Homo sapiens: one gene and its partners. The protein of the gene in region 1 purifies or fractionates together with the protein of each later gene. This does not show direct contact. Each region holds a gene or a part of one and is shown in the gene's direction. Other genes may lie near its edges. The genes, in order: URI1, POLR2B, PPP1CB, MYH9, POLR3E, UTP4 and POLR3B.

What was found.
Region 2: the proteins of URI1 (region 1) and POLR2B purify together in Homo sapiens (affinity purification with mass spectrometry; 3 studies listed by BioGRID and IntAct, with this or other methods). This does not show direct contact.
Region 3: the proteins of URI1 (region 1) and PPP1CB purify together in Homo sapiens (affinity purification with mass spectrometry; 3 studies listed by BioGRID and IntAct, with this or other methods). This does not show direct contact.
Region 4: the proteins of URI1 (region 1) and MYH9 purify together in Homo sapiens (co-immunoprecipitation; one study listed by IntAct). This does not show direct contact.
Region 5: the proteins of URI1 (region 1) and POLR3E purify together in Homo sapiens (affinity purification with mass spectrometry; 4 studies listed by BioGRID and IntAct, with this or other methods). This does not show direct contact.
Region 6: the proteins of URI1 (region 1) and UTP4 purify together in Homo sapiens (co-immunoprecipitation; one large-scale study listed by IntAct). This does not show direct contact.
Region 7: the proteins of URI1 (region 1) and POLR3B purify together in Homo sapiens (affinity purification with mass spectrometry; 4 studies listed by BioGRID and IntAct, with this or other methods). This does not show direct contact.

Annotation. Positions count from the first base shown.
Region 1 is NC_000019.10:29,979,892-29,983,945, forward strand, and holds part of URI1 (unconventional prefoldin RPB5 interactor 1), read left to right. Parts: intron 1-267; exon of another isoform or gene 268-359; intron 360-4,054. UniProt on the Homo sapiens protein: Involved in gene transcription regulation. Acts as a transcriptional repressor in concert with the corepressor UXT to regulate androgen receptor (AR) transcription.
Region 2 is NC_000004.12:57,027,282-57,031,335, forward strand, and holds the end of POLR2B (DNA-directed RNA polymerase II subunit RPB2), read left to right. Parts: intron 1-2,922; coding exon 2,923-3,118; intron 3,119-3,491; exon of another isoform or gene 3,492-3,617; coding exon 3,618-3,707; 3' UTR 3,708-3,877; downstream 3,878-4,054. Other genes in the region: IGFBP7 (insulin-like growth factor-binding protein 7 isoform 1 precursor), read right to left, coding at 4,036-4,054. UniProt on the Homo sapiens protein: Catalytic core component of RNA polymerase II (Pol II), a DNA-dependent RNA polymerase which synthesizes mRNA precursors and many functional non-coding RNAs using the four ribonucleoside triphosphates as substrates.
Region 3 is NC_000002.12:28,785,962-28,790,015, forward strand, and holds part of PPP1CB (serine/threonine-protein phosphatase PP1-beta catalytic subunit), read left to right. Parts: intron 1-2,696; coding exon 2,697-2,848; intron 2,849-4,054. UniProt on the Homo sapiens protein: Protein phosphatase that associates with over 200 regulatory proteins to form highly specific holoenzymes which dephosphorylate hundreds of biological targets.
Region 4 is NC_000022.11:36,290,112-36,294,165, reverse strand, and holds part of MYH9 (myosin-9), read left to right. Parts: coding exon 1-74; intron 75-302; coding exon 303-407; intron 408-684; coding exon 685-837; intron 838-1,931; coding exon 1,932-2,180; intron 2,181-4,054. UniProt on the Homo sapiens protein: Cellular myosin that appears to play a role in cytokinesis, cell shape, and specialized functions such as secretion and capping. Required for cortical actin clearance prior to oocyte exocytosis. Promotes cell motility in conjunction with S100A4.
Region 5 is NC_000016.10:22,331,743-22,335,796, forward strand, and holds the end of POLR3E (DNA-directed RNA polymerase III subunit RPC5), read left to right. Parts: intron 1-317; coding exon 318-443; intron 444-1,901; coding exon 1,902-1,958; 3' UTR 1,959-3,354; downstream 3,355-4,054. UniProt on the Homo sapiens protein: DNA-dependent RNA polymerase catalyzes the transcription of DNA into RNA using the four ribonucleoside triphosphates as substrates.
Region 6 is NC_000016.10:69,153,039-69,157,092, forward strand, and holds part of UTP4 (U3 small nucleolar RNA-associated protein 4 homolog), read left to right. Parts: intron 1-545; coding exon 546-642; intron 643-1,354; coding exon 1,355-1,419; intron 1,420-2,832; coding exon 2,833-2,955; intron 2,956-4,045; coding exon 4,046-4,054. UniProt on the Homo sapiens protein: Ribosome biogenesis factor. Involved in nucleolar processing of pre-18S ribosomal RNA. Part of the small subunit (SSU) processome, first precursor of the small eukaryotic ribosomal subunit.
Region 7 is NC_000012.12:106,455,134-106,459,187, forward strand, and holds part of POLR3B (DNA-directed RNA polymerase III subunit RPC2), read left to right. Parts: intron 1-2,004; coding exon 2,005-2,163; intron 2,164-4,054. UniProt on the Homo sapiens protein: Catalytic core component of RNA polymerase III (Pol III), a DNA-dependent RNA polymerase which synthesizes small non-coding RNAs using the four ribonucleoside triphosphates as substrates.

The DNA of each region.
Region 1 (4,054 bases):
AGTGTAATGCTATTGATTTAATTCAAGTACATTTAAATTTTCCATGAGGAGTGTTCCTTTTCCCACCAAATTGCATAAAGCATAACAGTATAGATCCCTTTTTCAAGAATTTTTAAATAAAATGTAACTTTTATCAATTTGTTTAGATTGTTTAAAAGGATACTTTGAAAAAAATCATTATTTCTTGCTTTAGTAACTGGAGGACATCTCTTTATCTATATAGAATCCATGCCCAAACTTAATATTCCTCTATTTTCTTGATTTTAGAGGTGAAAAGCCAGGCATCCTTCAAGCTAGTGGATCTTTGACAAAGATGCATTGCAAAACAATCAACAAACAATCAGAAAGGCATGCTATGTGTGAGTGATGATCCCTGCAGCATATGCCATAGGCTTGTTGTAGAGGAGCTGCTCAGTAAATGGTGGATTCAATTGAAACAAGTCTTTTTTGGATGCTTAATGGGAAGTTGTAGGGTGGGTATGATGGACTAAAAATTATTTCTAAAGAAGGTTATATATTGTATATATTCCAGAATCTTCCGTTTTTATCGTTTCTTAAATTAAAAAATAAAAATTTAACTCTGTCCCAGGTTAACTCAGATGTTAACACTTATATAGAAATTTTTTTCCTCTTTCCCCGTTAGGCATCTCACAGTATTTTCTGCTTGTCTGTTTAGGATGTTAGGTAGAGGAAAAGAGAGTGATAGAAGATTTTTTTTCTTAAAAAAAAAAAAAAAAAAAAAAAAAAACTGGGCCAGGCATGGTGGCTCACACCTGTAATCCCAGCACTCTGGGAGGCCGAAGCGGGTAGATCACAAGGTCAGGGTTCGAGACCAGCCTGACCAACATGGTGAAACCCCGTCTCTACTAAAAATACAAAAATTAGCCGGGTGCGGTGGCGCGTGCCTATAATCTCAGCTACTCAGGAGGCTGAGGCAGGAGAATCGCTTGAACCTGGGAGGTGGAGGTTGCAGTGAGCCGAGATCACGCCACGGCACTCCAGGCTGGGTGAAAGAGTGAGACTCCATCTCCAAAAAAAAAAAAAAAAAAAAAAGTTCAATGTTAGTATTTGCTGTCTATTTTAACTTCTTACTTTAAAGTAAAATTAGCAAAGTCTTATTGTTTCAACCTGATTTAAATTTTATCTCCCTTTTTTATTATTTAAAGGTTGGAGTCTTTATCACTGGCCTCAAAGGATGTAGACTTTTTTTTTTTAATAGAGATTTTTATTTTTGTCAGTCACTTTTAAGAGGATTAAAAATGTTGATCCCTTTCATATTTCCTCGTCCCTTTAAAAATATTCTATTATGACAAATTTCAAACATATGGAAGAGTGAATCTTGATCACCTATCTGTCTGTACCCTAATCCGTTAATCCATTTTTTTCTGATGAATTTCAAATTAAGTTGTGGACATCTGTGTATTTCACCCCTAAATACTTGAGCATATCCCTCATTTAACTTGATTTCTCTCTTACTTTCTACAATTTTATGCAAATGAGCTGTTTCCCATAGGTTCTGTCTTGATCTTAATCCTTTAAGGGTAAGGGCTAACTTGTGGTTGTGTTAATGGTCTTCATCGCTGCTGCCTATTTTTTTTTTTTAATTTCCTTAAAACAAAAGGTACTCTCAAAAGGCATATTGCACATGATTAGCAAGATTCAGAAGGAAGTGGTTAAAGTTTCTTACATGCCTTATACCTATGCTTTTAGTTCTTGTTTTGTATAAGGAATGTTGCATGAGGATATTGGAAAAAAATTTAAAATTAAGAGTTGAAGGCGGAACCTGATCTATAAGGATCCATTATGTTGAAGCCAAAGAAGCAGGTCTAGCTATTCTAAGTAAGTAGGCTGGAGAGGTGTTTCTTAACTCTATCTGGGTTTTGTTTTCCATTTGAAGAAAAATTATTTTAAGCAATTACCATTTTTGATTACTGTAATGACTCCTGTGTCCAAAAATTAATTACGTTTCTAATTATTAAAATAGAAAAAAAAATCTGTTCAAATTTTGTTATAAATAAAGACCCCAGACTTAACCTCAGTAATGCATTAGTTCTTAGCATAACTTTTGCATTTTCTGTTGCATAGGCTTTGTGATCTTTAACAGGATTATTTAAGCCTGAAATAATAGAGATACTATTTGGAGATCACTGTTTGACTAAGCCCTGAACATTTCCACGAATGTAGCCTTTAGAGAGAGAGGGTTCCTCAAGCTGTAGTTTCTTCCAGAGACATTGCTTGACTCCTCCTGGCCTCCCTTCATAAAGGATTTCTACATGGGCTGCATTTTAAGTGATCTTCTACTTTTGTATTTTTAGAAAATAATTCAAAATTTATAAATAGCAACTCTAATCTTAAACTGCTCTCCAGTATGTCCGCATTTTTATTCCAGAGAGAATTATTAATAAGTTGAAAACTGATTATATTTGACTTGAAATATTGACATTGATCTCTGGTATTGCCTGTTTTTGAACGTACTGTTCTTTTAATGTACAAAATAGATGTTTTTTGTGAGGAAGTTGTTTTTTTTTCTCCTAAGCATTGTTACCAAAATAAGACTTATTGAATGGTGACTTTAATACTAGCTTCTTAATATTCATAGAAATATTTAGATATCTAGGCTGGTGTATTTAGTCCTTGAGCATTTGCAGAATTACTTATCTGAAACATAAATAAGCTGTTAGTGTTATGTTATTAATAGTGAGTGTTGACTGTCTAGGCACTGTACCAGTCAGTCCTATGGAGACATTCTCCCATTGATTGCTCACACCAGTCCTGTTTCCAAAGCCCCTGAATGGTTACATTCAGCTGTACTGTCTTTCAGCAAGTTATACTATTTGTATCAAATTGGTTAGTGAAATCTTGTAGGTAATAGTCTTTCTTGAAAGTTTTGGAATTGATGTTTTTTGATGCTTCATGAAAAAAATGAGTTTTGAGTTTTGGAACCAAAATAGTAGTTGCTCCATGCTGGGCAGTGTGTTAGACCTTTTATATTTAATTCTGTTGAACCTGTGAGATAAGTATTAGTCCAATTTTGCCATTGAAGTTACTAAGACTAAGGTGAATTTGTGTAAATTGCATGTAGAGCTTGGGATTCACTCTCTGGTCTGACTTCAAAGCCATGTTCTTTCTGGTACATAGCCTTGTGCATGAAGTTTTTTTGCCATTTTATCCATATAAAAATTTTCCAGGAGGAGGATTTTTGCCTTAAACAAAAGAATAAAACATGTTTCGTATTTATTTATAGAAAAGGATTTTTTTTGGGGAAAGTTATAAAGCAGTTGCACACTAGAAAATGAGAAAGCTTTCATGAAGGAATGCAGGTCAGAAGACCTAGCTAGGTTAAACTCATTGCTTACCTCATCTTGATAGAGGAGATCTGGCTTCTTGCTATGTGGTTTTTCCATCTTCCTTCTACTTTGTCTTCTGTAAGAGAAAAATACTGATAAGTGACATTTATTATAGGTTATGTAAAATAATATATATGTGAAATTCCTTAAGATCTTAAGACTGAGCTAATTTTTTTTTATTAATTATGCTACTGTTGCTTCAGGGAACTAAGCAGTAAGCTGAAACCAATTCTGTGATGTTTGTCATTTATATTATCTGGAGAGTTGTTACCTACATTGCAGTTTATCCTGATTTCAATTTGACAATGTCTACATGTTCTTTTAAATTACTTGCTGAGTTGGTGAATTTTTGTTTCTGTTATTTTTAAAAACTGACAACATCCTTCTGCTTAAAAAAAATTCAGTGCTGTAGTTTTGCTTGCAGCCTGTATCTTAGCAGGGAACCCTTTGGAAACCCAGTCTCCAGAGAAAGTTTGACGGGCATCTTGGCATAGGCTGCTGCCTGGTATTACTCAAAAAGAAGGGCTGTTCATTTCCAGCAGGTGTTAAGAGCTGAGTAAGGCCCATAGCATGGAAATACGATCATCTCTGCCCCTACAGAGTTACATATACCTTTTGGTTGTTTGAAATTACTTATTTGGTAGCTCTGTTTGATGTAACAAGAAACAGACTCCTAGGCCAAATTGAAACGCCTTTTGTATTATCTC
Region 2 (4,054 bases), on another chromosome or scaffold:
TACAGGCAAGAGCCACCACGCCCAGCCCACCCCTTCCCTTTTTTTGAGACAGTTTCATCCCTGTTGCCTAGGCTGGAGTGTGGTGGCACAATCACAGCTCACTGCAGCCTCTACTTTCCAGGCTCAGGTGATCCTCCCATCTCAGCCTCAAGTAGCTGGGACTACAGGCATGCACCACCAAGCCCAGCTAATTTTTTATATTTTTTAGTAGAGACAGGGTTTTGCCATGTTTCCCAGCTGGTCTCAAACTCCTGAGCTTAAGTGATCCACCTGTCTGCCTTGGCCTCCCAAAGTGCTGGGATTACAGGCATGAGCCAAGGCGCCTGGCCTGTGGATATTTTTTTGATACTACACCAAAACGGTAAGTTGTAGTTTCTCAAAGGTTGGTTTTGATGTAGAAACTGAAACCATATGAATGAACCTTCTGTATTTATGTTTGAAGTTCATTGGTTTGTCTTGTACTTCAGATGTATCTTTTACACATGCATATTTTGTAGCATCCTAATTGGTCATTTGGAAAATATTGGTTTGCTGAGTTACGTAGATTTTCAAATGTTAACACACTTCATTATAATAAAAAAATTGCATTTGTTAATATGACTACTGATGTCATTAGAAAAGCCTTTAAATATATCAGGAAGCTATCAAGCCCATAGTGGTGCATAGAAGTTTCCTAAAATTCTGATTTTTGCTTGAAGCTCACAATTTTCATCATTTTCAACAAATACTTAAAATTATTTTCCTCAAAGACTTACTTTTTTCGTTTGCTTTCATTTCTTTTTGTTCATTTCTTTGTCTGCCAAATATCTACAACATCGTCAACTTAATTCTAAGTCTGAATTAACATCATGGGTGTTAACATGTTGATGAGTTAACATAGTTGGTGTCAGCTGGCTATTTGAGTAAAAAAGATACTCCATGTTAAAAGGGACTAGTTCAGAATCATGCAAGTGCTTTTGTTCAAGACAGTCATCTTCACTATGCAGTAGAAGTGCTTATGAAGTGTTCCATTTTATTTTACTTTATTTTTTATATAGAGACTGGGTCTTACTGTGTTGCTCTGGCTGGTCTTGAACTCCTGGGCTCAATCCAGCCTCTCACCTTGGCCTCCCAAAGTGCTGGGATTATAGGTGTGAGTCATCGTGCCTGGTTGAGGACTTTCATTTTTTTAAAAGTCACAGGATATGAAAGAGATGTATACTCAAGGGTTAAGGTTTAATAAAACTATTTATTTTCACTGCTTCATTAAGGACATTTTTAAGTAAAACTGGCTTTTCTCCCCTTCACTTGAATGGAGAATATGACTGCTAGTAATGTTTGGTTCTGCTACCCTGAGTTCTGCTAAGGTGTCAGCAGTTTTATTCATGTTTCCACCATCAGTGCAAATGTAAACACAGTGAAAGAAGCAAATATATGTTGTTAGTATTACTATTAAAAATAGCTTTGACTCTCAGGCGGTCCATGAACCACACTCTGAGAACCTCTGCTCTAAAAGATTAGGACACTAAACCTAACCACAGTACCTCCTTAGTATTAAATATCCAGATTTACATTTCCCTGATTATCACATAAGTTTTTTAAAGGTTTGTTGGTTTTAATCAGTATACAGATAAGGTCCATGCTTTGCAATTGATTGATAGTGTCTCATAAGTCCTTTTTTGAATTTATTGGTTGCCTTCCAACCTTTTTTTTCCCCTTGTAATTTGTTTGTTGAACAACCTGGACTGTTTGTCCAGGGCTTGAGACTGAATTTTGCTGCTTGCATCCCAAATGCTGTGCATTGCTGTTTTTTGTTTGTTTGTTTGTTTTTTGTTTTTTGTAAATAGATCTTGAGGCTTGAGATTTAGCGTTTGAGTTTTTTGGCAGTAATACTTTATAGGTGGTATTCTATACTTCCAGTATCTGGTTGCCTTTCTTTTTATGATTTTAGCAGCTATTACTAAAGACCTTAATTAAATGGCGATTTCCAACTGATACCATTCTATTTTTTCTCAGTCCTTCTTCAGTTTTTAGCCAGACTACTTCTAAAACTTTGTTTCCTCAACTGTTTGGTTACCTAGTGATGTAGTTCTTATAGTAAGGGCAGGAATAAATGCTTGATTCTCTTTTTTTATTTACCAGTTTTCAAAATAGTGAGCTGGTTGTCTAATGATCCAGATCAGTGGTCCAAAGTCGACCAATGATTTTTTTGTTTTGGTGGAATATCATTATAAACCCATTGGTTTTATTTTGTATATTTTGGATATTAAGTATGTTAAGGAAGCCATCACCATCTATTTGCCTGGCCATCTGAATAATGCATTTATTTCACTTCTTATGTTGGGGAAACCTATTATCATTTACCTGTTCTTTCCATTACTTCAGCCAACATGTATTTATGATTTCAAGGTTGATTGCCTGGGACAGTCATTCCATTGACAAGCTGCCTTATTTAGATTGTCTTTTTCATTATTCATTTTTTTAGTATAGAGTTGAATTCTAGAAAGTTAAATGATAGCATGATGAACCTCCACTCTATGCTTTATTGTGTCTTATGAGGAAAATTAAATGCTCTACTTAAGAATCTAATGTATCCACTCCATTTGGGGACCTTCTGTTTTTATTTTTATTTGTTAAAAAATAGAGATGGGGTCTCGCCATGTTGCCCAGGCTCCTGAGCTCAAGAGATCCACCCAGTCCACTTCCCAAAGTGCTGGGATTACAGGGGTGAGCCACTTTGCTTAGCCCATTTGGGGACTTTCTAATGCACGTCAAATAGTTGGTAGACTTCTCCTCTCCCCACCAATAGAGAGAATGCTAGGGTATAAAAATTAGAGCCTAGTTATCCGTCTTTGCAAATATTATTCTCCACCTTTGCCATTATTCAAGGCGGTGTTTATAATAAAAAATAAGTACAAAGTAATAATTTTTTTCTCTTAACAGTGATGGTGGCCTGCGTTTTGGAGAAATGGAACGAGATTGTCAGATTGCCCATGGAGCAGCCCAGTTTTTAAGGGAAAGATTGTTTGAGGCATCAGATCCATATCAGGTTCATGTTTGCAATCTTTGTGGAATAATGGCGATTGCCAACACCAGGACCCATACATATGAATGCAGGGGCTGCCGCAATAAAACCCAGGTGTGTATAGACTTTACTGGCAGTTGATATTTGTTTAGAGGAAACTGTGTTGGTCTGATTATCCAGGCAGAATTAGTGTGGCAGAACAGATTGGCATTTTCACAATTTTGATAGCATGCTTCTGTGAGATTCCGAGTTCTAAATAAGGAAAAGATAATTTGATTTTTCTAAAAACCAGTTTAGGTTTTAGTGTGGTAATTTCTCTAAGCTATTCATCTTTTGGAAATAATAAGACTTTGTACAAGGGATTTTAAACAATGAGTTTTTGAAAACCTTTTAGTTGAGGTGGGTGAATATAAATTATGTCTGGCAGAATGGGTAAAATACCAAAGCCTACTAGGAGAAAGAACCACCATAAGCTGAGGTAGCAGAATGTGTGTTCTCAGCTCCACTCATTTATTCATTATCTACAGTACCAGATCTTTGTCTTTTTCTGGGGTAGAGAAGTGGGGTCACTTCAATACAATTCTGCTAATTACCATTTGTTTTTTCTTTTCAGATTTCTTTGGTGCGAATGCCTTACGCATGCAAACTATTGTTTCAGGAACTTATGTCTATGAGTATTGCACCGCGAATGATGAGTGTTTAGCTATTTTACAGGAGTCAACAAGATAATTAAATATCTTGGTGTCTTGTTTCTATTGTGTGGCTTTTTAAAAATGACAAATATGTACTGTGTTGTGATAAAAAGTATTTTATTTGTTTAATGATATGCATGCTTTTCTTCTGTAAATATATAATAAATTTTTGTAGATAGTCTTGATGTGTGATCTTTATTTTGTATTTCTCTGTGTAAAACCAGTGAATATAACTAAAGTGTTAGTGGATTGGATTAAAAGAAACTTATTAGGCAAGAACAGGTAATGTAGTTATCCATGACTACTTTTAACCATGCAGACTAATAATATTCTGGAGGTTTATAGCTCGGCACCTTCA
Region 3 (4,054 bases), on another chromosome or scaffold:
CGTATTTTAATGAGAAGTTTTCAAGATGCTGAAAACAGTTATTTTGATCTTTGATAGTGTCTGCAACATTCAGAAATTTAATTTATAAGTTAATACATTATTTGAAGCAGCCTAGTTGATTGTGATGCTAGCTCATTAAACAATAAATCTTGACTCTGAAATTCTTTTTGAGACAGAATTTCACTCTTGTCGCCCAGGCTGGAGTGCAATGGCCTGATCTCGGCTCACTGCAACCTCCACCTCCCAGGTTCAAGCAGTTCTCTTGCTTCAGCCTCCCAAGTAGCTAGAATAACAGGTTCCTGCCACTGTGCCCAGCTAATTTTTGTATGTTTAATAGAGACAGGGTTTCACCATGTTGGCCAGGCTGGTCTTGAACTCCTGACCTCTGGTGATCCGCCCACCTCGGCCTCCCAAAGTGCTGGGATTACAGGCGTGAGCCACCATACCTGGCCTGAAATTCTTATCTAGACCCTGTTAAGGTTAAAGAATTCCAGATTGTTGTTGCTACCATTATTTGATTTTTTTAATGCATCCAGAGTGTCATGTTTCCTAAACCTCAAACTCTATTCTAATTTTATACAGTTTTATTGTCTCACTGAAATTATAGATTCTTGAGATCGAGACCATCCTGGCTAACACGGTGAAACCCCATCTCTACTAAAAATTCGCTGGGTGTGGCAGTGGGCGCCTGTAGTCCCAGCTACTCGGGAGGCTGAGGCAGGAGAATGGCATGAACCCGGGAGGTGGAGCTTGCAGTGAGCCGAGATCGTGCCACTGCACTCCAGCCTGGGTAACAGAGCGAGACTCCGTCTCAAAAAAAAAAAAAAAAAAAAAGAAATTATAGATTCTTAATACCTTAGCTTTCTACTGGAAAGAGGCTGGAAAGTATGAAAGCATTATTAAGCACTGGGTGGGTGTATATTTTCGAAGAGTCAGCTTCAACCAGAAAGGGCTTAAGAATTGAGACTGACTATTCCAGTGGATTTTGTGTGCTAGTGAATTTCTTAAAACAACATACAGGGAGCTTGGGATATATCAATGATAGAGATTGAATACATTGCCACTAATTCTACAAATGGTTTTATAATGCCTCTATCAAGATATGATGTACTGTAACTGAAAATGAAGATGCCCTTTCCTCCTAAACCATACTATGATGTTTATGGATTATTTAAAATTCTTAAAACTGACTTAACTCTTTAAAAATTATCTTCTTGGCTGGGCGCGGTGGCTCACACTTGTAATCCCAGCACTCTGGGAGGCCGAAGCGGGCGGATCACGAGGTTAGGAGATCGAGACCATCCTGGCTAACACAGTGAAACCCCATCTCTACTAAAAATACAAAAAATTAGCCGGGCGTGGTAGCGGGCACCTGTAGTCCCAGCTACTCGGGAGGCTGAGGCAGGAGAATGGCGTGAACCCGGGAGGCAGAGTTTGCAGTGAGCAGAGATTGCACCACTGCATCCCAGCCTGGGCAACAGAGCGAGACTCCGTCTCAAAAAAATATATATGTATCTTCTCTTAGCCACTGCAATTCTTAGAAAATCACCATCACCATCTCAACATCCACCCTTCTTTTAATATCACTACAGTTGGACTTTTACCCACTCCGTTACCCTCAATCACCAAGAAACTTGCATTGAGGTCTGATGATTTAATTGTAAGTGGCACATTTTTGGTCTTCGTCCTACTGCCCTTGTTCATGGCACATTTCCTACTTTAGGACGATTGTTTCCCCTTTCGGGATACGTTTACTATACTAAGCCCTTTGTCTTGATCATTCCTTCTCAATACCTAATGTTCATTCTCCCTCATCTACCTGCCTATTAAATGTTTGAATTCCTCAGAATTCATTTGCTGGTCTTCTCACTTTGTATTCCTAAGGTGGTCTGAGTCCCTCTTAAGATTTCCACTACCATTAATATGATGACAATACTCAAGTAAATATTTTTAACCCTGACCTCTTTTCCAGGGCTCCAAACATTACCAAAGTCAAGGATCTGATCTGATTTTGTTCTTCCACATTTAAAAAAAAATCCTCAGGGTCTCAGTAGAAAATGTTTTTTTTTCGCTCAAGTGATCTGTAGATCAAATACAATTCCAGTGAAATCACAATTGAGTTTTTTATGGAATTAGGCAATTGTTTTTAATGTTTATGTGGAAGAACAAAAGATCAAAAAGTAACCAAGACAATCCTGAAAAAAAAATGGAGGATACTAGCCCTACCAAATATAAAGACTTATTAAAAAGCTCTAGTCTGTTATTGGCTCAGGGATAAGTAAAATAGACTAACAGAATAGACTGTGGTGCTCAGAAACAGTGGAACCGTAAGGAAAGGATGAACTGTTGAGGAAATACCACTGGGTTGTTTGGTTATTCATATGGAGAAACTACCCAAAAGATGAACAGCCTTTTCCATGTATTGTTGTGCTGTAAGTGCCATGCACATATTTCCTATATGTGGAAAGGGTTGGAAAGTACTACCTTAAGAGGCCATGGAAGATTATATTTGTATGGTTTGTATGGTTGCTTTAACAAAAGTATAAGTTACATAGGCTGGAATACTTAGGCAAGTGATGGTCATTGTTTAGTAAAAGGTAAGAGGGCAAGAAAGGAACTGAAATTTGATGTAGATGTGCTATATTCTATAAATCTGTAAATTTTGTTCTTAATTGCTGTATTTCTGTCCTTTAAAGGTTTGCTCTGTGATTTGCTATGGTCTGATCCAGATAAGGATGTGCAAGGCTGGGGAGAAAATGATCGTGGTGTTTCCTTTACTTTTGGAGCTGATGTAGTCAGTAAATTTCTGAATCGTCATGATTTAGATTTGATTTGTCGAGCTCATCAGGTATGAAATATAAAACTCTTAAGCTTTTTCTTTTTTCTTTCTTTTTTTTGGGGGCAGACGGAGGGGCAGACAGATTCTTGTTCTGTCACCCAGGCTGGAGTGCAATGGCGCAATCTCTGCTCACTGCAACCTGTGCCTCCCGGGTTCAGGCAGTTCTTGTGCCTCAGCCTCCCAAGTAGCTGGGACGATAGCCGTGTGCCACCACACCTGGACTCTTAAACATTTATTATTTGTTAACTTCACATAAGCCCTCTCATTTTGTTTTGAGGAAACATATCCAAGAAAGCTAAATGAGTTGTACAAGGAAAGCAGTAGGAGAGGTGGCAGAGCCAGTTCCTGGATCTCACACTTAACAATCTAGTGATTTGTTAACCTTTTATCACCCTAAAAGAGGAAATGTTTAGAAATATTTTGGGGCTGGGCATGGTGGCTCACATCTATAATCCCAGCACTTTGGCAAGCTGAGATGGGTGGATTGCTTAAGTACAGGAGTTTGAGACCAGCCTGGGCAACAAAATGAGATTCCATCTCTACAAAAAAAATCAAAAATTTAGCTGGGTGTGGTGGTGCGTGCCTGTGGTCCCAGCTACGTGGGAGGCTGAGGTGGGAGGATCGCTTGAGCCTAGGAGATCAAGGCTGCAGTGAGCCATGTTTATGTCACTGCTCTCCAGCCCTTGTGAAAGAGCTAGACCCAGTCTCAAAAAAAAGAATGTATTTTTGTAGTATACAGCAAACCTAACAAAATTTTCAGTGCTTCTTTGAAGCTTTGTAGATATGATTTAGATTTTTTTTTTTTTTTTTTTTTTTGAGATGGAGTCTCACTCTGTCACCCAGGCTGGAGTGCAGTGGCACAATCTCTGCTCACTGTAACCTCCGCCTCCCAGGCTCAAGCGATTCTTCTGCCTCAGCCTCCGGAGCAGCTGGGATTACAGGCACGCACCACCACGCCTGGCTCATTTTTGTATTTTTAGTAGAGACAGGGTTTCACCATGTTGGCCAGGCTGCCCTTGAACTCCTGAGCTCAAGTGATCTGCGCCTCAGCCTCCCAAAGTGCTGAGATGACAGGCGTGAGCGTGAACCACTGTGCCCAGCCTCATTTTTATATAATCTTTGTGCATAATGGCGATTTTGATAAGAGCAAACCACACTTTAAAAAAGTATTTTTGAGACCATTGAAGAATTTGATTGTGGCTCAGTGCAGTGGCT
Region 4 (4,054 bases), on another chromosome or scaffold:
AGGAGCTGCAGGTCAAGTTCAACGAGGGAGAGCGCGTGCGCACAGAGCTGGCCGACAAGGTCACCAAGCTGCAGGTGAGGCCTCCGCCAGGACCCTGGCGCGGGCAGTGGGCCCTAGCAGCAGTTGTGGCCCAGGTCCCCAGGTGCATGTGTGCTCTCTGTCTCTCTCTCTTCTCAAACTGGCTCCTCAGACCCTCATGGTTCAGCTTGTGACTCAGGTCCAGCTTTACCTAAAGGAGATGAGGTGGGGCAGGAGCAGTGGGGGTGGGTCCATGGTCCTTTGTGTCTCCCCGCCCGGTGCAGGTGGAGCTGGACAACGTGACCGGGCTTCTCAGCCAGTCCGACAGCAAGTCCAGCAAGCTCACCAAGGACTTCTCCGCGCTGGAGTCCCAGCTGCAGGACACTCAGGTAGGGGTGGCGCCAGGTTCCCAGAAGGTGGACCCCTCCAGAAAGGCCTCTGTGTCCACGCAACATTAGCTTCAGAGCCCATCGGATTGCCCATCCTCTCCTTCATCTGCTTCATCCTGTGGGTGGGTCTCTGCGTCCTCCCAGCTCCCTCCAGGTCTTTACGTGGCCATCCCCTAAATCAGCAGGACCAGCTCCTCCCTCTCCTCAAGGGTGTGGGGTTCCTGGGTTTTGGACACCACCCTCCTAAGCACCCGCACCCCTCTCAACCCGCGAGTAGGAGCTGCTGCAGGAGGAGAACCGGCAGAAGCTGAGCCTGAGCACCAAGCTCAAGCAGGTGGAGGACGAGAAGAATTCCTTCCGGGAGCAGCTGGAGGAGGAGGAGGAGGCCAAGCACAACCTGGAGAAGCAGATCGCCACCCTCCATGCCCAGGTTTGGAGGCCTGGGGGACCGGCCGGACTCTGCAGGCTGGGGAGCTGCTGGCCGGGCACTGGCCTGGGCACTGCAGGACAGCCCTGCCCGCTGGGCCGGCCCATTGCTGCTCTCCCCCTGGGAAGCCAACCGTGCTCTCCCACATCAGTGCTCTCAAGGAAAGGAATCCAGGGATCTGTGGACTTAGATGGGGGACACCACTATTTTCACTATTTTACACCTTTATTTTCACCAGTCTTTAGCTGAAATTCAGCATTGCTTCCATTATGGATGTAGGCAGCAAGCCATGGTGGTGGCAGTCCCTGTGCCGTCATCATCTGTAGAAATGGCCAGTTACCCTGTCAGGGTTGTGGCCGAGCTCCTTGGCCTCATGGGTCCCAGGCCTGCGCTGTTTGTTATCTGATGTGCTATCTAGCAGCACGTGGCTTCCTGAGCCATGGTTTTTTAGAATGTGTGACAACTGCATTTTTCTGTACTGGTTGCCCTGCTGATCCCATGTTTATTTCATGCCTGTTACAACATTGTCATGAGAAGGAGTCCCTTGGCCTCTCTAGACTGCGAAGGGGTCCGTAGCCTAATATGGTTTCAGAGCCCCTGCTCTAGATCCTATCTTGGGCCTCCATGTGCCAGGCCAGAAGGCCTGAACCACCTCGGGATGGGCTGGGAGTCCATTCCACAGTCAGGGTAGGAGTAGCCCGCGAGCGTGCCTGATTGTGGGTTTATCTCCAAGTGCAAGGATGGGGCTGGGTGATGGGGACCCCGTGGACACCCTACAGGGCACTGGCCCTGCTCTCTGGGAGCAGTCTCCGTAGAGCAAGAGGCTTGGTGTGGATGTGGGCTGGGAGCCCCCACAGCGGGCCTGGGGGTCAGCCTCCCCCGGGCTTCACACAGTAGACAGATGCCCCTTTGCAGAAGCTCCATTTGTCTCGCCCCTGTGGAGAGGGAAGTGACTGGGGGAGGCGGTTTCATAACTGGGCAGATCCCTGGTGCCCCTTCCACGGTGTGGCAGGCAGGCTCCCAGCTGCCCCAGGGACGGGTGTGCCACCTGAGCAGGTGCCATCTCGGGCATCTGCTTACTCCTTGCTCCTGCCCAGGTGGCCGACATGAAAAAGAAGATGGAGGACAGTGTGGGGTGCCTGGAAACTGCTGAGGAGGTGAAGAGGAAGCTCCAGAAGGACCTGGAGGGCCTGAGCCAGCGGCACGAGGAGAAGGTGGCCGCCTACGACAAGCTGGAGAAGACCAAGACGCGGCTGCAGCAGGAGCTGGACGACCTGCTGGTGGACCTGGACCACCAGCGCCAGAGCGCGTGCAACCTGGAGAAGAAGCAGAAGAAGTTTGACCAGGTGTGTGGCCGTTGGCCCCATCCTTTGCATTTCCTCTCCTTCAAGCACTGAGTCCAAAGCAAAGGGCCCATCAGAGAAAGCCTGGGCTCCCTCAGGGTCTCGCCGGGGAGGGGCCGTGCGGGGCCAGTGCTTAGAGGACCCTCAGGCTCTGGCTTGTTGAGGGTCCCAGGGAGAAGGCCAGCGGAAGAGGGCGTCTTCATGCGATGGGTTGAGGAGTGACTTTTCCTTTCTGATTTTTTACATTTTTCAGATTTTCTCTAATGAACTGGTTTGACTGTCTTTTTTTTTTTTTTTTTTTTTTTAATTTTTTTATTGATCATTCTTGGGTGTTTCTCGCAGAGGGGGATTTGGCAGGGTCATAGGACAATAGTGGAGGGAAGGTCAGCAGATAAACAAGTGAACAAAGGTCTCCGGTTTTCCTAGGCAGAGGACCCTTTGGCCTTCCGCAGTGTTTGTGTCCCTGGGTACTTGAGATTAGGGAGTGGTGATGACTCTTAAGAGCATGCTGCCTTCAAGCATCTGTTTAACAAAGCACATCTTGCACCGCCCTTAATCCATTTAACCCTGAGTGGACACAGCACATGTTTCAGAGAGCACAGGGTTGGGGGTAAGGTCACAGATCAACAAGATCCCAAGGCAGAAGAATTTTTCTTGTACACAACAAAATGAAAAGTCTCCCATGTATACTTCTTTCTACACAGACACGGCAACCATCCGATTTCTCAATCTTTTCCCCACCTTTCCCCCCTTTCTATTCCACAAAACCGCCATTGTCATCATGGCCCGCTATCAATGAGCTGTTGGGTACACCTCCCAGACGGGGTGGTGGCCTGGCAGAGGGGCTCCTCACTAACCAGTAGGGGCGGCCGGGCAGAGGCGCCCCTCACCTCCCGGACGGGGCGGCTGGCCTGGCGGGGGGCTGACCCCCCCACCTCCCTCCCGGATGGGGTGGCTGCCGGGCGGAGACGCTCCTCACTTCCCAGACGGGGTGGCCGCCGGGCGGAGGGGCTCCTCACCTCTCAGACGGGGCGGCTGCAGGGCGGAGGGGCTCCTCACCTCTCAGACGGGGCGGTTGCCAGGCAGAGGGTCTCCTCACTTCTCAGACGGGGCGGCCGGGCAGAGATGCTCCTCACCTCCCAGACGGGGTCGCCACTGGGCAGAGGCACTCCTCACATCCCAGACGGGGCGGCGGGGCAGAGGCGCTCCCCACATCTCAGACGATGGGCGGCCGGGCAGAGACGCTCCTCACTTCCTAGATGTGATGGCGGCCGGGAAGAGGCGCTCCTCACCTCCTAGATGGGATGGCGGCCGGGCAGAGACACCCCTCACCTTCCAGACTGGGCAGCCAGGCAGAGGGGCTCCTCACATCCCAGACGATGGGCGGCCAGGCAGAGACGCTCCTCACTTCCCAGATGGGGTGGCGGCCGGGAAGAGGCTGCAATCTTGGCATTTTGGGAGGCCAAGGCAGGCGGCTGGGAGGTGGAGGCTGTAGCAAGCCGAGATCACGCCACTGCACTCCAGCCTGGGCTCCATTGAGCACTGAGTTAAAATCACTTTAATTATCATTATATCATTACATTATTATAATTATTTAATTATAGTTTGGGTTTTTTTAAAATAGTTTGGGTTTTTTTTTTTTTTTTTTTTGGAGACTGTCTCTGTCTGTTGCCCAGGCTGGGGTGCCGTGGTGCAACCACAGCTCAAGTGATCCTCCCACATCAGCTTCCTGAGTGGCTGGGACCACAGGCGTGCACCACCACCACACCCAGCTAATTTTTAGATGTTTTTCATAGTGACAGGGATCTCACCATATCGCCCAGGCTGGTCTCAAACTCCTGCGGTTTGACTGTCTTTTAAACGATTTATTTATGCAT
Region 5 (4,054 bases), on another chromosome or scaffold:
AGAAATATGTTCAAGCCACTCATCCTCTCATGTCTCTTCACCAGTTCTTTTGTTATGCTGGCATATACCTTTGTTTTTATTTATATTCAAGTTTCCAGACATAGCATTAATGCCTTTACTTTTGTGTTTTTATTTCTGTACACTGTCTTGCTGGGTCTCTAGAGATGACTTGGCTCATCTTTAACCAGAGGTGCTGCGTGAGGGTTTTTATCAGAGACTGCAACACAAAGTCAGGTGCATGGCTTGGGTGTCTTGTTTGGGGATGTTTCTCTTTTTAGATCACTGTTTCCCATCATAACGTGTTTTTGCTACTAAAGCATCGACAGGTTTTGCTTGAAATTTTTTCCAAAAATTACCGGGTACGCCGAAACATGATCCAGTCTCGGTTGACTCAAGAGTGTGGAGAAGATCTCAGTAAACAGGAGGTGGATAAAGTACTAAAGGTACATCCATTTTGTGCATAACAAACAATATCAAAGGCTCTGGAAGGGGCTGACAGTGTGTAGAAGGGACTCTAGTGTCTTTGTGTATATGAAATCAGGCTTCCTTGGGACCACTCCCCAGTCAGTCTTGTCTTGAGCAACTGTTAATGATTGATTGATTGGCATTGGTTGGGGAAGGGGGTATGTGCCAGAGGACTGACCCCTTCAAACAATATAGTCACAGTGGTGTCCAAGGGAAAGAATACAGCCATGGATGCTTTGTTTCTCTTTCTGGTTGGGCCAGGCCAGTAATGCCCCTTTCATCCCTCTTCTCTGCTTGTCACTAGAGACAGAAACTAAAAACCATGGCTTCAGGCTGCTAAGAGCCTAAAACAATAGAACAACAAAAAAATATGGTAGGTTGGATGAGCTTGGCAGTGGGTAGGCGTCTTCTAAAATGATAGGGCCTAGTTGAGAATCCTCACTCTACTCTCCCTTGAATTTTGAACTATCTTCTGATTGTTGCCATAGCCACACACATGACTTTCAGTAGAATCCATTCTTAAATTTAGTTTAAAAAGGAATATGATCTGTTTACTATATGAAAGCACCTAATGTACAACCTATAATGCTTTTCTGAAGTGACTGTAGTACAAATACCAACCATATTTGCAGCAACACTGAGAGACAGAAAACTGATGACAATGTCTTGTTTTGATTAAACATCCAGAGCCATATAAGTAATACTGTTTTTTAAGCACCCTTGTTCTGGGCATGTCAGTATCTGTATTTCGTAGACCCCCTTTTTTTTTTTTTTTTTTTTTTTTGAGATGGAGTTTTGCTCTTGTTGCCCAGGCTAGAGTGCAGTAGCACAATCTCGGCTCACCGCAACCTCTACCTCCCAGTTTCAAGCAATTCTCCTGCCTCAGCCTCCTAAGTAGCTGGGATTACAGGTGTGAGCCACCATGCCTGGCCCACCCTCACTTTTAAAATGCCCCTGAGGAATGGCCAGGCGCGGTGGCTCACACCTGTAATCCCAGCGCTTTGGGAGGCTGAGGTGGGTGGGTCACTTGAGGTCAGGAGTTTGAGACCAGCCTGACCAACATGGAGAAACCCCATCTCTACTAAAAATACAAAATTAGCCAGGCGTAGTGGTACATGCCTGTAATCCCAGCTACTTGGGAGGCTGAGGCAGGAGAATCGCTTGAACCTGGGAGGCAGAGGCTGCAGTGAGCCAAGATCATGCCGTTGCACTCCAGCCTGGGTAACAAGAGCAAAACTCTGTTTCAAAAAAAAAAAAAAACACTACCCCTGAGGAAAGGGTGGCTGGTAGTAGCCATGGTGGTATGGTTAGGCAGTTTTTGATTTCCCATTTGTATTCTATTCACTAATCATAAATCGAGTGTTGACATTGTGGACAGAATGTAATTAGCTCCTTTTCCTGCAAAAATCTGTGCTTACCCTGTTTCTCTCTCATAGGACTGCTGTGTAAGCTATGGTGGCATGTGGTACCTTAAAGGGACAGTACAGTCTTGACAATAGTAGCAAACTACTAACCCAGCAAATCTAAGCCCAAGGAAGAAGGGCGGAACCAGAAGTAGGGCCTCGACTTGCTTCAGACGACACAGAGCAAGAGGAACTGACCATCTCATGACCTGTGGCATTGCACGGTGCAGTGGACAGAAGGGATTATCCTCAGCCAGTCGCAGGGTCAGCTTAAGTTAGTTAGATCACTCCCAGAAGAGACCAGCTGGGACCTTCTTTGCAGTACAATTTGAAATTCCTGATGTATTTTGCTTATTATTTGGTTTCATTCTCATAATAAAGAGAGTGTATACTGACATGGGCAGGATGATAAAAATCATGGTTTAATATTTTCTTTTGTAAACTTAATGCCAACAAGGTCTAAGTTATGTTTACAACATGAAGAAAACCTCAAAGTTCTTAATTTTTAAAATGCCTAGAAGACAATATTTAGTCTTGGATTATCTATCTGCTAAGACCTCCACCAATTTCATTAAACCAAATTGAATTATTCTATTCTTGGGATTCTGTGGCCACTTCACCTTTGACAACAACCTACTTTATGTAGCAGTCTCAACTGTTTACATGAACCATAGCAAAAAAATCAGAATCAAATCCATCTCCTTTTAATGTTTGCAGAAAGATGCAAACAAAACCAGGTAAGTATGGAACAATGTGTAAGTGAGGTTATCACACTTTGATGTAAAAATTTCTATTTTGTGTATTTTTAAAATAAATGCAAACACTAAACTAGCATCATGGTGCTATCTTCAAATGGTTACAGGAAGGCGATCTTGTTGGGCTCAGCGTTACGTGTATCTAGAGGGAACGGAGCTAATGGAGGAAGACAGAGCAGCACTGTCCACTAGAAAGAGGCGAGTCACGTACATAATTTTGAAAGTTTCTAGCAACCACATTAGTTTAAAAAGGTCATGTTAGCATATTATTTAGCTCAAAATATCTAAAACATCAACATAAGGTAAAAGTCTTCAAAATCTGGCATTTTACACTTTCCTCAACACTCAGTTTGGACTAGCCACATCATAAGTGCTCCGATGCCACATGGGGCTATTTGCGACAGTATTGGATAGCACAGCCCTAGAAACTGATGGAAAAAATAAGAGTAAGCTAGGTTGGATGACATGTGAATTTTGGTATCTAGATAAGGCTTTCGCCATCTTTTTTGTACAACACAGTCACTAATTGTCTGAAGGTTTAAATGACGGTCTATGCTATTTCCCCACTCCCCCCAAAATAAAACATCTAATATTTTAGCTATAGAATCACTAAGGCATTGATCAAGGATGTACTTTGCCAAATAAGTATTTGGTAACATCACTTAACAAGTTGATCGTGTATTGATTCTGTTAACATATGTGAACCTGAAAAGTAAAGTTACCAAAAGCGATTTGGAATATGTCTCAGCTTTTCCATCCTACTTCCTTCTCACTTTGAAAGGGGAAATGCTCATGTGGGACGGCACAGAATGTTAGTCCCATCACCTTGCAGAACTTAATTGGCTCAGTGGAGAAGTCAGAGCCTTAAATACTTTACATTGATAAAAAGAACTGGTTAAAACACCAAACTCAAATAGCAAGAAAAAGAAACAAGGAATATAGGAGGGAACTATTGTTTTAAAAAAAATTGAGGGAACTTGGGATGTCAGAATAGGACTTTCCAGCACTCATCCCCCTGCAGAAACATGAATTTAAACAACTGTCCACACACAAAAATACCTTCACAAGAGTTAAGGAACCTCTAGAGATTACAGCACCTTGGTGTACCACAGAAATAAGATGTACTAAAGAGGATAGGAGGGACAATTTTACATTACCTAGCTTACCCCCTCCCCAGCCCCAGGCAGCACAGGGTGGAGAGAGAGAGAGAGAGAGAGAGAGAGAGACCCTCTACTTGGAGGAAGGAGAACATTGGACCCCAAAATCATGCCAGCCCCAGACTCCAGGCCTGCGCCAGGAACACAGGCTCTAAGCATACCCACTGCCAGGCCTGCACCCATGAGCTCACACTCTAGCAGGCACCCCCTCCCCACCCTGGTCCAGCCCCATCTGAGTAAACCCCAGCACTGGGCTGGCCCTCACAGACTAGGC
Region 6 (4,054 bases), on another chromosome or scaffold:
CATCCAGGCCTGGCCCTTCAGCTTCTTTTTGCACCTCTCGTGCTTGTAGCACCCCCACCCAGGCTAGCCATTCTCAAGGTCTTTTTGTTCCCTCAAATACTCTTACCTTTGAGCTATGTCACATGCCATCACCCTCCTCAGAATGTTCTGCCCTGCCTCCTTCGCCTGACTGGTCTTTCCCAGTGAACCTCATCTGGGCTTCTGTATTTACCACCACACAGCTAGGTTAGATGTCCTGTCTCCTTATTTTTCAGTACATACTGTGTTTAGCCGTGTTAAAATTCTTGGCACACTGAAGTCTAATTGCTGATTTAATTCTGTGTCACCCCTTTAGAAGCATGTTGAGAGCAGTAGCTATGTTTTAATTCATCATCGTCTTCATAGATCTCAGGGCAGTGCCTGGCATATGGGAGTACTTAGGAAATATTTATCAAGGAAATGGATTTCAGCAGTAAAAAATGTGCTAAGGTGGTGCTACTGTATCTGGTACTAAGGCAGTAGATGACCCTGACTTATTTTTTTAACTTCTTGATTCTTGGATATAGCGATGTCTCATCTCCTGTTCTAAAAAGAGGCAGCTTCTCCTCTTCCAGTTTGCTCATCACTTAGAACTTTGGCGACTGGGATCCACAGTTGCAACAGGTAAGATGGGAGCACGTTTTTTTCAATAAGAAAACTGGAGAGAGAAGCCAGAAATCAGAATTGCGGTTGGAATTCTGCTTATAGAAAAACTGAAGTAGACTTTTGTGTCCATTTTAACTAATGGTTTTCCCACCCATTAGATAAAGCAAATAAGCTGTTTAGAGTATTAGAATCTTTAGCAGGATATTGGATCATCTCTTAAAAGTTTATGGCTCTAGGTGGTGCGCTGCAGGGTGTAGTCAAGGTAAGGGTTGAAGAATCGTAGTTTGCGCTAGCTTAACTGAGGTGAAAACAGGCTGTTGAAAAACAACAAGATTTAATGATGGGTAATGATAATCCTGTAGAAAAAGAAGATCACATGGATCTTATTGGAGTGACAGCCTAGTGGCCTTTTTGACTTATTAAGGAAATGTTTGAGTCCTCTCATTTGCAGTGGATTAAAATCGAGGCCACACAAACTCCACCTGTGTCCCTGGCTATGGACTAGAGCTTCAGGGAATTAGTGATGTATCAGAGGATAGAAGCAAAAGAAGTACTCACTGCTTTCTCTTCATATACCCCTCAAAAATTGTGAGCTTACTCAGTGAGCTTGTATTTTTCTGATTTCCCACTGATAGAGATTCCATTTTTCCAAGGAGTAACTTTTTAGAAGAAAAATGTACAAATACTCTTTCTTTCATAAGAAAAATCTCAGGGAAGTTTCTTGTTTCAGGCAAGAATGGGGATACTCTTCCACTCTCTAAAAATGCAGATCATTTACTGCACCTAAAGACAAAGGTAAGGAAGTTTGTTTAGGCTCTGAATTCTAGAGCCTGAATTCTAGGCTCATAATTCCCATTCTGAATTTTGAGGTTACTTAGTTTGCATCATAAATTGTATAAATTCTAAAACTATTTGAATGAAGGACTGTGTCACCAGGACTGGGTTTCCTGTGATTATAAGTAGGACGTTGAGGATTTATTAGATGGATGTATACAGGAAATAGGTTTCTCTTCTTTTGATATTATTATGAAAATAATGTGCTTTTATTTATTTATTTATTTATTTATTTATTTATTTATTTTTGAGACGGAGTTTCACTCTTGTTGCCCAAGCTGGAGTGCAATGGCACCACCTCAGCTCACCGAAACCTCCGCCTCCTGGGTTCAAGCGATTCTCCTGCTTTAGCCCCCCAAGTAGCTGGGATTACATGCATGCGCCACCACGCCCGGCTAATTTTTTGTATTTTTAGTAGAGATGGGGTTGGTCAGGCTGGTCTTGAACTCCCGACCTCAGGTGATCCGCCCGCCTTGGCCTCCCAAAGTGCTGGGATTATAGGCGTGAGCCACCGCGCCCAGCCATGTGCATATTTTTAAAAACTCAAATAGTACAAAAGGGTATACAATGAAAAAAAAATCATTTTGTGAGTTTTTAAAAACTACATACATGTTACATTCAACTTTTCTTTATTCTCCAGATTCTTTTTTGTTTGGTTAGTTGGTTGGTTTTTTTGTTTGTTTGCTTACTTTTTTGAGGCAGGGTCTCATTGTGTTATCCAGGCTGGAGAGCAGTGGCACGGTCACGGCTCACTGCAGCCTCAACCTCCCAGGCTCAGGTGATCCTACCACTTCACCCTCCCAGGTAGCTGGGACTACAGGTGTGCACCACCATGCCCGGCTAATTTTTTGTAGAGTCAGGGTTTCACCATGTTGTCCAGACAGGTCTTGAACTCCTGGGCTCAAGCAATCCTCCACCTCAGCCTCCCAAAGTGCTGGGATTACAGGCATGACCCACTGTACCTGGCCTTCAAATGTTCTTCATTTGCTATTTCTTAGAAGTCTTTAAAGCAGAACGCCGTACACAAAACAGAAAATAAGTACTTCAAACCACCTATCCTCCAGAGCTTTCCTTCAGTAAATGCCTCCCTGCTCAGGTTTCTGAAGTTGGGGTCTAGTATGAGGCTATCTATGAAGTATTCAAAGGGCCAAAATAAGAATAGACCTCCATTCTTGGATTTGGAAATCAAAGCCATGCCTTTTAGGTGCTCTGCCTCTGAAATAATCATATTAATGCAGACCACACGAGGATCGAGATTATGTGTAGATATCTGTGGGTATGTCCAGAGTGGCAAGAGCTTGAGGCGTCATGTCCCAGTGCACCTTGTTATGTGAAGTTTAATTGCACATTCATCTTGATTCCTGATATTGCCAGGGTCCTGAGAACATTATCTGTAGCTGTATCTCCCCATGTGGAAGTTGGATAGCCTATTCTACAGTTTCTCGGTTTTTTCTCTATCGGCTGAATTATGAACATGACAACATAAGCCTCAAAAGGGTAAGTGATAGTCCAATATCTGGTCACATAAGAGGAAACTTCCTAAATATGTCATTTTTGTGTGAAGTGGAAATCAACTGGATGTGAATCCTTGCTCAGTTAAAAACTATTTGGAGATTTGGAGAAGGCTGTTATGAAACAGTGTTTTATTTCTTTCTTTCTTTTTTTTTTTTTTTTTGAGACGGAGTTTTGCTCTTGTCACCCAGGCTGTAGTGCAATGGCACAGTCTTGGCCCACTGCAACCTCCGCCTCTTGGGTTCAAGCGATTCCTGTGCTTCAGTCTCCCGAGTACCTGGGATTACAAGCACCCACCACCACACCTGGCTGATTTTTGTATTTTTAGTAGAGATGGAGTTTCACCACCCGTTGGCCATGCTGGTCCTGAACTCCTGACCTCAAGTGATTCACCCGCCTCAGCCTCCCAAAGTGCTGGGTGCTGGCATTACAGGCGTGAGCCACCGCACCCAGCCTTTTTTTTTTTTTTGACCGAGTTTCACTCTTGTCACCCAGGCTGGAGTGCAATGGCACCACCTCAGCTCACCGCAATCTCTGCCTCTCGGGTTCAAGCCATTCTCCTGCCTCAGCCTCCCGAGTAGCTGGGATTACAGGTGCCCACCACCAGGCCTGGCTACTTTTTGTATTTTTAGTAGAGATGGGGTTTCACCACGTTGGCCAGGCTGTCCTGAACTCCTGACCTCAGGTGATCCACCCCCTCAGCCTCCCAAAGTGCTGGGATCACAGGCATGAGACACTGCGCCCGGCCCACACCCAGCCTTTATTTCCATTTTGAAATTTTGAGGTATGTTCTTAGAGGGATAGGGTAATGCCCTACAGGCAATAAAATTAAAGCTTTTCTGTTTAGTGGTTTCACGTGCGACTTAGTTATTTCCTTGATAGAGAAGTGAATATTTAGTAAAGAGATGAAAGGGGGATGTATAGATTACTGGAGAGAAACCAGTGTTCTGTGCCGAGTCAGTTGGCTTACTTAGAGACAGGAAGCATTAATGTACCTTAAGCCTAGCTGTGATTGTTTCTGATGGGCTGTAGGTCTCCCTTCTCTCACTGGCTTTTATTATTGGTTCACCCAAAGGTTTCCAAA
Region 7 (4,054 bases), on another chromosome or scaffold:
CTCATAATTTGGTAACTTCTTTGGCCAAGTGACGAAAGTTAAAAATACACGGCCACAAACTCTGGCGTGGAGTTTTTCTGCTTTTCTTTCTGTTTTTGACAATACTTTCACAAGTCACCACCTCGTGGTTTGTTAGACATCACCTGATCTGAAGTCTGACTTCTCTATTCATAATCTCGATTTCTCTTTTTCCTTCCTGGCGTACCCACTATGCCTTCCCCTTCCCTCTTTGTAGTTGCTAGGCAGCCATAATAGTACTCCTAGACATGTGTCTTTGGCATTAATGTTGGCCACACTTAATTTATGCCTCTTTTTTTCCTCCAAATGACAACAGCCATGCTTTAAAACTAGATGTTTTCCTTTCTGATTAACTGGTAACGTTTATGTGGAAATCTGAAGACTTTGTGATGTCTGTCAGAAACTCTGCAACCCAATTCAGTGATCTGAGTTTACTATCCCCTAGCTTTTAAGCTATCACCTGTAAATAAAATGTCTGTTTACACTTTGAAGAAAACACTTCTTGATTTCATGCAGTTAAGATTCACATTGCACTCCAGCATGTTGCAGTTAATGGCTACTGTATGAAATTTCAAGATCATGTAATGTTTCCAAACCAGCTGGCATTCTGAGCCGAGTTTATTATGGCCATACACAATTTCCTAGGAGCCATGATGACTACGGCCTTGCTTAAAGACACAAATGTCTTCATCTGACGTCCAATTTTAGAAATTCGTTACTTCATCTCACAGTCACCTTCATATTTAAAAAATTACATTACAGCCCTGAGATTTTATTTATAAATCCACTTTTACCTGATTGATTTCTAAAGTCACATTCTTAGATTTCTGTTTTTGGTGGAAAATTGTTAAGTGAAGGATTTTACTGCCATGCATTTATTTCATCAGTAATAAGCGGCATTTAATCCTGAGACATTTCTTATTTAAGTGAACTCTGGCATGGCTCAGTATATCCTGAGGAGATTAGTAAGAGAATCCAGTTTAAAATAACTGCTTGGCCAAAGGGAAAAAAGAAAGAAATGCAGCCACAGAATCAGGAAATTATAGTGTTGAAGGAATGACAGCTGTTTTGGGTAACTCTACAACTCATGGATTTTTTCTTTTAGGGATTCAGTGGTTGAGTTTTTTTGCCCCACCCAAAGGTTTTTCTTCTGTCCTTTTTGCTTATTTTTCTTCCTTTTCTTTTCTGATCCATTGCTAGACAGCTTATTTTTCTTGATGTTTAGATTGTTAGTTGATTTCACAGCCTTTCCCTCATCCACTAGATAAATGCAATCTAAAAATGTAATTAAACTCCAATCTTTAGGGCAGAGGAGAACTATTTTTCCCATTGAAATAATTTGATTATTTCTTTTTTCATTCTGTCTCTTCTCTGGAGAAAAATTATTGTTTTTACTTGTTGGCTTAGAACTTGCTCTAAATGCCAAATTTTAAAAAGGAAAACTTTCCAGGGAAGTTTAGCAGAAGTTATGCACCAAAAGGATGTGTATCCTGGCTCAGGAGTCAGTGGACTTGTGCTGTTCAACACAATTCTCAACTCTGCTGCCAACTTTTTGGATGACCTTGGCCACTTAATTTCTCTAGACCTCACTCCTAGTGCCTGTAAAACAGATAGGTTAAGCAGGTGATTTCTAAGGGCCTTTCCAATTCTAATATTCTATGGCTCTGTCCTCTGAAAGAATCACAGCGCCAGTCTTAGATTTCTCTCACCGTTCTCCAGTATGACAAGGTGTATTCCATGCAGAAAATGGTTGTAGAGATTCCAGTGTTTACACAGACAGTAGGTAGGGGACAAGTCCTGTGCTGCTTCTTCAGATTATCAGATTTTTATTTGGTTTGTACTGGTCCCAGATTATTATCAAATACAGAGAAGTTTTGGGATTTGGGGGAGGGTGAGGTGGAGTGGATTGTTGAGTAGCACAAATCCATATTTCCTTATAGCTTTGGGTTACTGGTGGTTCTAATGCCCATCTTGGTTTCATTTTAGGCTTTGGGCGTTGCCTTGTATATAAAAATGCTAAATGTACGTTGAAACGATACACCAATCAGACTTTTGATAAAGTGATGGGGCCCATGTTGGATGCTGCTACAAGGAAACCTATCTGGCGACATGAAATCTTAGATGCAGATGGTATTTGTTCTCCAGGTAAAAGCCTTTTAAAAGAAAAAATTTTAATACTTTTTGACATCATATGTTATTCAATAATATTTCTGAATATTTGGCAAAAAGGGCAGAAAAAAGTAACAACCTATAAAACCACCATCCAAACTCAACCAATGAGGTCATTTTTGATGAATTTCCTTCCAGTCTGTTTTTCTATACACTATGTTTTTACCTATCAGTAATCTATGCTAACTATAATTTTCTAGTTATAATTTTGAATAATAGAAAAGCCACTTTAAGGAAATATTTAGAGTAGTTTATGTCCCTGCATCTGCACTGGTATTTCTTCATTTACACATTTAGCTTACAGACTACTTTAGAATTTTATCCCCCTGCAAAGGTATGACTCCATTATAATTACAAACTTGTAATGCATTTTGTTGATGAAACAAATAGCCCTTGCCCTTATGGGTCTCACAGGCTAGTGCAGGAGACTGACATTGATCAGAGGATCATGCATAAATCCAGGTTAAGGAATCATATAGGTAACTATGAGGCCATTTTATAGCAAGAGAATTTGACCTTGTTGGGAAGATCAGCATGGCTTTCCCGAGGAAGTGAGCTGGAATCTGAAGGATAGGGAAGAGTTAACTAAAGAAGAGGATCAGGGAGCATGTTCTAAGTAATGAGAAAAGCTTGTGCAAGGGTCCCAGAGCTTGGTAGTTGAAAGGTCTGAAAGAAGACCAGCGTGGCTAACAAGAAGAGAGTGCAGGGAAGCATGGTGCACATGAGTTGGTGGGTGACGCAAGGGGTAGGGGCCAGAGTAAGCAAGTCCTTGCAACCATGTTAGTATTGTCTTTATTTTATTTTATTAATTTTATTTTTGAGACAGGGTCTCAGTCTGTCACTGAGGCTGGAGTGCAGTGGCACAATCTCAGCTCACTGCAACCTCTGCCTCCCAGACTCAAGTGATTCTCCCACTTCAACCTCCTGTATAGCTGGGACCCATAGGCACGTGCCACCATGCCTGGATAGTTTTTTGTATTTTTTGTAGAGATGAGGTCTTACCATCTTGTCCAGGCTTGTCTTGAACTCCTGGGCTCAAGTTCTCCACCCACCTCGGCTTCCCAAAGTGCTTGAGCCACCATGCCGAGCCCATGATACTATTTTCATTATGATCCTAAAAGCAATGATATATTCAGATATGTGTTTTGAATGATCATTCTGACTACAGTGTAGAAAAAGGATTAGAAGGGCACTAAAATAGAAGGTAGACCTGGTACCAGGAGCTGTGGTGAAGGTGGAGAGAACCCAGTTTGTGAGGAGGGAAATCCACATGACTTTGTCATGGTTGGCCTGTGGGCGGTGAATGCTTTATCAAGCTGTGGTTCCAAAGAGACACAGAGTACGCGACTTCTCCTCCCTCCCTCTGCCTTTGTTTCTTGGAGAATTTTTCTCACCCTAACACTGGTCAGTATGGCTTGGAAAATACGCGCTGTGACAGTACTACAGGTAGTTGGTCTTTGAACTTACCAGGAAGAGATACAAAGCAAAAATGGGAATAACAGCATAACCAAAGAAATATTTTGATTTCCTTGTTGCCCAAGTTAAATTGGTGGTGGCTTATTACTGGTTGAAATAACTATAAATAAAAATAAGTGACCAAAACTTAACACCCTAAGAGATATATAAAATTGCTATTTACTGAGATGATGTTTCTCATGTTCATGTAGTACTCTGAATTATTTTCTTAATTTTATATAGACTATGATGTGTGTGTGTGTGTGTGGGTGTGTGAGTCTCACTCTGTTGCACAGGCTGGAGTGCAGTGGCATGACCATAGCTCACTGCAGCCTCAACCTAGGTTCAAGCAGTCCTCCTACCGCAGCCTCCTGAGTTGTTGGGACTGCAGGCCTGTGCATCTTTGCCTAGT